Regions from separate parts of the Homo sapiens genome. Here region 2 is reported to be linked to region 1. The links are microRNA targets in miRTarBase. Many come from high-throughput screens and were not tested one by one. Region 1 holds a microRNA gene; the other region holds the end of a gene's coding sequence.

What was found. Region 1 holds the annotated microRNA hsa-miR-4755-5p (UUUCCCUUCAGAGCCUGGCUUU, at 3,129-3,150, opposite strand). A microRNA usually pairs through its seed, bases 2 to 8, with sites in the 3' UTR of a target mRNA and lowers its output. Matches are read on the target gene's strand: a 7mer-m8 pairs with bases 2 to 8, a 7mer-A1 pairs with bases 2 to 7 and ends in A, and an 8mer does both.
Region 2: the mRNA of BCL9L is a reported target of hsa-miR-4755-5p. Seed matches in the 3' UTR shown: 7mer-m8 at 2,730-2,736.

Annotation. Positions count from the first base shown.
Region 1 is chr20:34,047,205-34,052,277 of GRCh38, reverse strand. MIR4755 (microRNA 4755) reads right to left here and starts at 3,159; the gene lies at 3,088-3,159. All of the region lies in intron 2 of RALY (RALY heterogeneous nuclear ribonucleoprotein), which reads right to left.
Region 2 is chr11:118,893,970-118,899,039 of GRCh38, forward strand. It overlaps BCL9L (BCL9 like), which reads right to left. Exons shown (of 10, transcript NM_001378213.1): 10 at 2,167-5,070. The coding sequence ends at 4,446. It overlaps CXCR5 (C-X-C motif chemokine receptor 5), which reads left to right. Exons shown (of 2, transcript NM_001716.5): 2 at 1-3,818. The coding sequence ends at 694. Among named protein-coding and RNA genes, the nearest start is that of CXCR5, 13 kb to the left of the region's middle. RefSeq lists enhancers at 1,795-2,553, 4,173-4,680.

The DNA of each region.
Region 1 (5,073 bases):
TCCAAGGTTAAATAAGAAGAGGAAATTTGGCATATTGCACTCTCAACTCGTTCCCAAGAGACACACACAATAAGGGTCTGCAAAGGCAGCGGTAAAGAAATTTACTTATTAGCATTATTCAATCTGATGTTTCCCAAATTATTAACATCTCTTCTGAGGAAGACACAATTTGAGGAAGACACACTGGGACAGATCTCTAGGGTCCCTGTCAGCTCTAACCTACTGTGATTTGCATCAGGAGTACTTAGCCAGTGCCTGGAGCACCCTGCTTCCCTTCTTATCCAGTTCTCTTAACCTAGTGAGGCATTTAAATGATACTCTGGTTAATGAGAATTTATTATATGTAGTCCATTTTACTGTAGTGAAAGTATCAGGCTGGGCGCAGTGGCTCACGCCTGTAATCCCAGCACTTTGGGAGGCCAAGGCACCTGGATCACGAGGTCAGGAGATGGAGACCATCCTGGCAAACACGGTGAAAACCCGTCTCTACTAAACAACAACAACAACAAAAAAAATTAGCCAGGTGTGGTGGCAGGCGCCTGTAGCCCCAGCTACTGGGGAGGCTGAGGCAGGAGAATGGCATGAACCCAGGGGGCGGAGCTTGCAGTGAGCGGAGATCACGCCACTGCACTCCAGCCTGGGCAACAGAGCGAGACTCTGTCTCAAAAACAAAAAAAAAGTATCAAATTTCAAAGACTCAGAGTGCAATATACTGAAAACGCTATCCTATGAGATAGGATACCTGCAGTTACTAAGCTCCTAACACATGTTCTGTACTGTGCTAGCATTTTCCATTAATTATATCATTAAATCCATACACAACCATAAGGAGTAGACATTGTTATCCTCGTATTACAGAGAAGGAAACTGAGCTCAGAGAGGCCAAGTAACTTGCCAAAGGTCACACAACTAGAAAGTGGCGAGCACCAGATTTCAAACCCAGGAGTACTCATTTTCCAAATCTTGGTTCTGTTTTGGGCTCTGCCACCATGACTATCAGATGGTCCCTAACTCTCTTTAAAGCTTCCTGGGCCTTAGTTTCCTCAACTGTCAAGTGGGAATAGTAATCCTTACACTGCTTCCCTCACAGAGTTGCTCTAAGGTTCAAAAGCAGTAACACGTATGAAAGGGGTCTGTAATATATAAAGATGTGAATATTAGGGGCATTTGAAACATCATGAATAAACGTTGCTATTTCTGTTCATGAATTTTAAGCTGTTTGTTCTTGCAAGGTTCCCAGTCATCCCTTCCCAAATAGTGCTCCTTAAAATTTTCATCAGGATTTTGAATAAACAGGAAATATGTCCATTTCTCTCAGTATTGATTACTCTCTAGGCTGTCTGACAGACTCACACTAAATTGCCAATCTGCTTCTTAGGAGTCAGGAGTGAAAACATCAGAGTGGGTGAGAGCCTGGTGGGAGGCCTGTGAGCTGGGAGTTATCTGAATAGAGATAGCATACTGGCTGTGGGGCTAGACTCCTCACCATCATCTTGGAACATGGCTGGGAAATAGGTCCAAAGGGTCATTTGGACAGCAGATCCCAGCAGCCTCTGTATGAGATCTGTCCAGGAGACTAACCCCATTATATGGGATGGCAAGAGGGGGAGGTGACTGGAAATGAGAAATGGGACCAGGCTGACCAGCTACACTCTCAGATAGAGACTACCCTGACAAGGGCCTAGGCACAGACACAGAAGTAGTTGGGTGCAGGGCTCTCAATTCATCCTTCAACCCTGCCTGATATCACATCCTCATAACCCACATTGCTGTGGCCATCTGCTCCCTCTAGTTTCTGGCAGATTAAGGCCAAAAACAACAGCAAAGCATTTTTGGATCAAGGTCCTGCCTGGGGACAGAGAAGTAAATAATACAAGTCCCTGTTCTTAAGTAAGGCACTAGACCAAGACGGTTTGAGCCTAACTAGAGGCTCTCTTGCATAGCAAAGTCTCTGGCACATGGGTTATATTCAAGAATTGTTTGAACCGAACTGAATCAAAGGAACCTACATTCTGCAAGTTAAGAGCACCTGTTTGGTGTCAGGAGCCCAAGACTTCTAGATTCAATCCTGGTTCTGACATGTACAATTCAGGGACTCTGGACCTCAGTTTGCCCATCTGTAAAGTGCACTTTGTCTACCCCACAAGTTGCTATGAGTAGCCAATGAAGTAGTGGCTCAGTAAATGGCACTCTGTAAATGGCATGAGATGGAACAGCAGGAGCTGATGGGAGCACGGGCGCACATGATCTTAAAAGTTTAGAGTCCAGCCTGAAGAAGACCTGAAATAAGCTCCTTTCTTTCTCCCCAGTCAGCTTAGATCTGCTTTTCAAACACAGCAGACATTCTCTGCATTTCTGGTGACTGTGAAAAGGGGAAGGGGATAATTTGCCACTAAGTAGGGGATAGAAAGAAAGGTTGCCATCTTTATACTTTTCAAAATAAGAGCACGGGATTTGGATTTATAATCCTAACTTTTGTTAATCAAAAGCTGTGAAACTATGAACAAGCCTCAACCTCTCTCAGTTTCCTCATCTGTACATTGTGGGGAAATTTCCTAAGTCATAAGATTGCAGTTAAGGTTCAATGAATTAATGATGTCAAAAGTGTTTTGAAATCCACAAAATGCCAAACAAACGCCAATCATTACAAAGTTGTCTGTCTTCTCATCAGTTTACCAGCTACATAGGACAGTGGTTATTTACCATTTGACAGGTGAGATCATCAAAGCCCAGAGAAAGTGCTTAAAGTAACACACAGCTCAATTCTGACTTCTTACAGCAGAGGTAACTGTTCCTTTACTACAGGGGTTCTTAATTAGCCTGCTTGCCTCATTAAACTGACAGATCTCTGAGGGAGGGGACTACATACATCTTACACATTTTTGTACCCCAGTGCCCATCATGGCACACCTAAAAGATGTGAAGTGTTACTAGAATGATGACTAACATATTGGTAGCAGAAACATATCTAGAACTCAGGACTCCTAATCCCAGATCCAGGGTTCTTTACAACCATACAGTGGCCCAAACCTCATAGACTCGGCTTGCCTTAACATCTCATCTCTTCCTCAATTCTCCACTCTAGCAAGATTCAACTTTCCCTTCAGAGCCTGGCTTTCATAGATGCCAAAGCCAGGCTCTGAAGGGAAAGCTGAATCTGGCTTTCATAGATGCCAGTTCCTCAGCCATAACCTTCCTCATCTCTCCTTGCTGAGCTAATTCCTATCCATCTCTCAGACTTGGAGGCCTTTCTAATCTCTCCTAATACTGGGTCAGGTATTTACTTTCCTCCATGGCTGTTTTGTTTATCACAGAGTCCTGGCACACAGAATGTGTTAAAAGTATCTGTTGAAGGCTGAATGAATGAAACACTGGGTGTAGAAATCCAAAGGTGATGCAGAGAAAATTTTTTTTTTTTTTTTTTGAGACGGAGTCTCGCTGTCTCCCAGGCTAGAGTGCAGTGGTGCGATCTCGGCTCACTGCAAGCTCTGCCTCCAGGGTTCACGCCATTCTCCTGCCTCAGCTTCCCGAGTAGCTGGGACTACAGGCGCCCGCCACCACGCCCGGCTAATTTTTTGTATTTTTAGTGGAGATGGAGTTTCACCGTGTTAGCCAGGATGGTCTTGATCTCCTGACCTCGTGATCCACCTGCCTCAGCCTCCCAAAGTGCTGGGATTACAGGCGTGAGCCACCACGCCCGGCCGCAGAGAAAATATTCTTGACCTGGAAGTCATGCAGCCTGACTGATTCTAATTCTAACTCCACTACTAATGCGTTTCGTGATCTTGAGCAAGTCCCAGTTCTTCTTTGGACCATCTATAAATGAGTTACACAGTATGATCTCAGAAGGTCCCTCCATTGTTAAAAGCATATGAGACTTAGACTCATGTGAAGTCCTAGGGATGAGGAGATTCCAAAGCCAGCTATATGCTCCATAGCATAGGAGACCCAACACTCTCATCCCCCCAGGAGCACGAGAGACACACGACTCTGCTGTCAGGAGCCTCCCAGCCCATTGGTTTACTTAATTCCTCTTGATGAAGTGCCAAGAATAAATCGTAGGTGAGCAGCAGAGCATTTTAACGAGTCCAGAGCCTAATGAATCTTTTCCTTCCTGTGTCAATTAGAATTTCAAAGCTAGGATCCCCAAGGACCAATTTATTGGGAACAGAGAGAAGAAGCCTTTTGTTCATCAGCAGCTGCCTGAGCTACCTGCTCTGCTCCTGTATCTCTGCTGTGTAACAATCCTGCTTACTCAGATATAACATCTGGCACAATAAAGCCTGGCCTGGAGGCTCCTTCTTGCCCAACATTTCTGGGGTCTGAACTTGAGGAAGGAAACAAGGGTCCAGGGTATTTCTGAGGGCAAAGGTGGGGTTGGGGGTTGGTCAGGGAATCAGAGCAGTGCTGACGTTGCTGCTATCTCCTAGGGATACTGGCCTTCAAAGAGCTAACAGCCACAGATCACCAGGCTACTCACCCAACTAAGTATCTGGTACTGTGTGGCACCTATTTACCTGTTATTTTAAATCCTCACAACCTCAAAAGCAGATATCAACCACATCATTTTAGAGAAAAGGAAAAAGAGGATCTGAGAGCTAAAGGATCAGCCTAAGGAACACAATTATTACAGTAAATGGCAGAGAAGGATTTGAACTCAGGTCTGTGCGACTCCGAAGACTAAAGCTCTATCAAACCAATACAACTCTGCCAGGAGCTGATGTCTTGAATGGCAGAGATGGCCCATGGTCAGCCATAGACACATTAGGCATTTGCCACCAACACACTGTCTTTTGCCCGGGCACATGCAAGAGTGGCTGCGCATCACCAGTCCTTCCATTCAATGGAGCTGGCAATCCTCCATCCCTAGAAGATAATCCAAGCAGAGTCACCATCAACACTGCCCCCTGCTCCTACCCCAGAAACCTTTTATTTGTGAGGAATTTCCAATTCTTGATCTAATGGCTCCCATGCACCCAGTTCTCCACCTCCCATACTGTCCGCTCTAAGTCACACAGGGCCAGCCCAGGTACTACTGCTCTGTATTCAACAAAGACACATTTTCCAAGGTCA
Region 2 (5,070 bases), not on the chromosome of region 1:
CATCGCCGTGGACCGCTACCTGGCCATTGTCCACGCCGTCCATGCCTACCGCCACCGCCGCCTCCTCTCCATCCACATCACCTGTGGGACCATCTGGCTGGTGGGCTTCCTCCTTGCCTTGCCAGAGATTCTCTTCGCCAAAGTCAGCCAAGGCCATCACAACAACTCCCTGCCACGTTGCACCTTCTCCCAAGAGAACCAAGCAGAAACGCATGCCTGGTTCACCTCCCGATTCCTCTACCATGTGGCGGGATTCCTGCTGCCCATGCTGGTGATGGGCTGGTGCTACGTGGGGGTAGTGCACAGGTTGCGCCAGGCCCAGCGGCGCCCTCAGCGGCAGAAGGCAGTCAGGGTGGCCATCCTGGTGACAAGCATCTTCTTCCTCTGCTGGTCACCCTACCACATCGTCATCTTCCTGGACACCCTGGCGAGGCTGAAGGCCGTGGACAATACCTGCAAGCTGAATGGCTCTCTCCCCGTGGCCATCACCATGTGTGAGTTCCTGGGCCTGGCCCACTGCTGCCTCAACCCCATGCTCTACACTTTCGCCGGCGTGAAGTTCCGCAGTGACCTGTCGCGGCTCCTGACGAAGCTGGGCTGTACCGGCCCTGCCTCCCTGTGCCAGCTCTTCCCTAGCTGGCGCAGGAGCAGTCTCTCTGAGTCAGAGAATGCCACCTCTCTCACCACGTTCTAGGTCCCAGTGTCCCCTTTTATTGCTGCTTTTCCTTGGGGCAGGCAGTGATGCTGGATGCTCCTTCCAACAGGAGCTGGGATCCTAAGGGCTCACCGTGGCTAAGAGTGTCCTAGGAGTATCCTCATTTGGGGTAGCTAGAGGAACCAACCCCCATTTCTAGAACATCCCTGCCAGCTCTTCTGCCGGCCCTGGGGCTAGGCTGGAGCCCAGGGAGCGGAAAGCAGCTCAAAGGCACAGTGAAGGCTGTCCTTACCCATCTGCACCCCCCTGGGCTGAGAGAACCTCACGCACCTCCCATCCTAATCATCCAATGCTCAAGAAACAACTTCTACTTCTGCCCTTGCCAACGGAGAGCGCCTGCCCCTCCCAGAACACACTCCATCAGCTTAGGGGCTGCTGACCTCCACAGCTTCCCCTCTCTCCTCCTGCCCACCTGTCAAACAAAGCCAGAAGCTGAGCACCAGGGGATGAGTGGAGGTTAAGGCTGAGGAAAGGCCAGCTGGCAGCAGAGTGTGGCCTTCGGACAACTCAGTCCCTAAAAACACAGACATTCTGCCAGGCCCCCAAGCCTGCAGTCATCTTGACCAAGCAGGAAGCTCAGACTGGTTGAGTTCAGGTAGCTGCCCCTGGCTCTGACCGAAACAGCGCTGGGTCCACCCCATGTCACCGGATCCTGGGTGGTCTGCAGGCAGGGCTGACTCTAGGTGCCCTTGGAGGCCAGCCAGTGACCTGAGGAAGCGTGAAGGCCGAGAAGCAAGAAAGAAACCCGACAGAGGGAAGAAAAGAGCTTTCTTCCCGAACCCCAAGGAGGGAGATGGATCAATCAAACCCGGCGGTCCCCTCCGCCAGGCGAGATGGGGTGGGGTGGAGAACTCCTAGGGTGGCTGGGTCCAGGGGATGGGAGGTTGTGGGCATTGATGGGGAAGGAGGCTGGCTTGTCCCCTCCTCACTCCCTTCCCATAAGCTATAGACCCGAGGAAACTCAGAGTCGGAACGGAGAAAGGTGGACTGGAAGGGGCCCGTGGGAGTCATCTCAACCATCCCCTCCGTGGCATCACCTTAGGCAGGGAAGTGTAAGAAACACACTGAGGCAGGGAAGTCCCCAGGCCCCAGGAAGCCGTGCCCTGCCCCCGTGAGGATGTCACTCAGATGGAACCGCAGGAAGCTGCTCCGTGCTTGTTTGCTCACCTGGGGTGTGGGAGGCCCGTCCGGCAGTTCTGGGTGCTCCCTACCACCTCCCCAGCCTTTGATCAGGTGGGGAGTCAGGGACCCCTGCCCTTGTCCCACTCAAGCCAAGCAGCCAAGCTCCTTGGGAGGCCCCACTGGGGAAATAACAGCTGTGGCTCACGTGAGAGTGTCTTCACGGCAGGACAACGAGGAAGCCCTAAGACGTCCCTTTTTTCTCTGAGTATCTCCTCGCAAGCTGGGTAATCGATGGGGGAGTCTGAAGCAGATGCAAAGAGGCAAGAGGCTGGATTTTGAATTTTCTTTTTAATAAAAAGGCACCTATAAAACAGGTCAATACAGTACAGGCAGCACAGAGACCCCCGGAACAAGCCTAAAAATTGTTTCAAAATAAAAACCAAGAAGATGTCTTCACATATTGTATTTATATATTTATATTTATATATATATTTATATAATGGTACAAAATGGCTGGGGGTGTGGCCATGGATGGAGGGAAGAGTAGGCTGGCCTGTGGCGTGGGTGGGAGGAGAGGGGACGGAGAGGGCACTCGGCCCGCTGCAATCTGACCCCTCTCTCCTCAGGGCAGGAAACACAGAGTCAGACAGTTTGGGGGGGTCTTGGGCCAGGGGTGGAGGGCTCAAGGGCACAGGGCCCAGGCTGAGGCAGGGCGGGCAAAGCGCCTGGCAGGATGAAGGGCAAGTGGCCCCCCAAACACAGAGGCCCTGGCCATGGACCCTGGGAGGTGACCGGGGTGAGTCAGGGGCCTGTTGTCAGCCCCAGAGGAAGCGCTGGACCTGGCCGATGGTGGGCCGAGAGGACAGCACCAGGCTGGGAGAAGTGGGGCGAGTTCCCTTTGTATTACAGCTGCCAGTGCAAGACCAGGCCCTCCAGGCCAGGAAGGCTAGGGACGGGTCCTGGTAGAAGACACCCTGTCTAGAATGGCCCTTGGTCCTGGAGGTGGGGCGCAAAAGGCCTCAGCCAGGGAACTGCCCTGCCACCTCCCGAGGCAGGAAAGGAAGTGAGAAAAGGAGAAGTTTTTTTACTCCTGGGGCCAAAGTAGGGGGACAAACACCCAGTCGTATATGGCTTCAGCTCTGACCAAAGGCGGATAGGGAGCTCTCCTGGGTAGGAGCAGGGAGCCAAGGGGGAGGCAGTGGCTGTGCCTGGGTGGGCACAGACAGATCTGGTACATGGCCCTGAGCCCTGGGCAGAGGGACAACCTTGCCGGTGAGTGGGCAGGCAGAGAGGAGGCGGCAGGATGCTGTTTCCCCGATTCCATCCTCAGGGAGTGGAGACTGGAGGGGAGGTGCACTGACTCAGATGAACTGTTCTCCCCCTTCTTTGATAAGAAGTAGGTGGCAGCAGCCTCTGGAAAAGTCAGGGCCCTGGAGGTTACCTGGCCCAGGGCTACTACAGCCACAGGCCCCAGTGGCACCATGCCACCCCTTCCATGGCTCCACTCAAGGGGGCCACACAGCCACCGCCTCTTCCTCCTTTCCTTCATCCCAAACTGGGACAAAAGACTTCAAGTTCTGGCTAAGATGTAGCAGCAGCGGATGCCCGGGCATCCAAAGTGGAAAGCCAGGGCCCCGTGTCACCGGTGTGGGCAAACACACATGCACGTGCACACATGTTCTCCCTGAATCACTCAGCAGCAGACAGGCTGCCGCCCTGGGGGTCTCAGCCCTGCTAGGGCTCACCAGGTGGAAGCCTAGGTGGTCTGACCTCAGTTTAGGAGTGGGTCATTTACGTCATCTTACCATTTGGGGACGAGACAGGAATGGTATCCCTTAGGGACCCAGAGACACTGCAAACAGTGGGTGGCCATGTAGGGCTGCATGTCCCTGGGTCCAGGGGAATGGAGGGAGCAATAACTTGAAGAAGGGGGGAAGGGTTTCTTTTATCCTTTTTTTTTTGTGTGACTTCTATCAAAACACAGAAATACAGCACACGCACAAACCAGCACAAAAGCGCAGCGCTCTATTTACAGCTCCGGCTGGCACCTGCCCACCTGGCCAGCCGCCTGCAGGGAGGGGTGGGAGAGGGGTCAGCCACATCAGCAGGGAAAGGATACGAAGCAGGTAAAGACAGAAGGAAAATGGGCGGGTGCGGAGAAACCAAGAGGGAGGTGGAGCTCCAGCAATGCGGACACGAGGAGACAGGAGCAGAAGGGGCTGGGGGAGACCTGACCTGTCCTTCCTCTCTCCCCCCAGATTCCCATCCAGGACTCCAAAAGCATAGCTGAAGGGGGTGTGGCGGGTGCAGGGATGCACGGAAAGAGGTAAAATAGAGAGGCTCCATAGGAATTGGGAGGAGTGGGGGAGGGGCAGTCCTGGTGGCCGAAATGGAACCAACCCCAATGCAAAATCCCCCACCCCACACTGCCACTTCCCCCTAAGCTGCCAGCACATCTGGTTTCCACAAATGCCACTCCCTACACAAGCCCCCTCCCACCCCCTCCACCCCACCCCGCGACCCAGGCCATCCCAACATTGAGGGGAAGAACTTTGTTAAGGTTATCGTATTTGCAACATTGCCCCGGCTCCAGCCCTGGCAGCGACTTCTAGAAGGGCAGGTTGGCCATGCCGCCTGGTGCCGGGAGGTAGCCCATCTGGCTGTCCAGGGACACACTGCGCTGCCGAAGGGGGTGGGACACCATGAGGTTCTGCTGGGGCGGGGGGCCCATGAGGGAGCCCTGCGGGGAGAGCATGTGGGGCGGCTGGCTGTAGACCTCGCCCCCCACGCCCCGCTGCTTCATCAGCATGAAATTCTGCTGGGTCATGAGGCCTTGTGGAGGGGACATGACCCCCTGGTGCAGGCCATGGGGCACCATCCCCTGCTGTGGGGGCACGCCTGTCCTGCCCAGCAAGGACATCTGTCCAGGGTGGCACATGGACATGTTGAGCCCCCGCTGGACGCCCTGCTGGCCTGGGAGGTTGGGAGGCCGAGAGGGAGTCTGCTCCGCCATCATGTTCTGCAGGTTCATGAGATGCAGATTAGGGGGCTGAGCCTTGGGGGGCTGGTTCTCGCTCTTGGGGAAGTACTGGAGGGTGCTGCTTGGCTTCTCAGAGGGGATGATCCTCGACAAGTCGAACTCGGGGATCCCCGTTGGGGTGGGCCGGATCACCTCGCTCAGCTCGGGGTCGTTCAGCACTGATGCCACCCCAGGGAGCACACCCGGTGGGTAT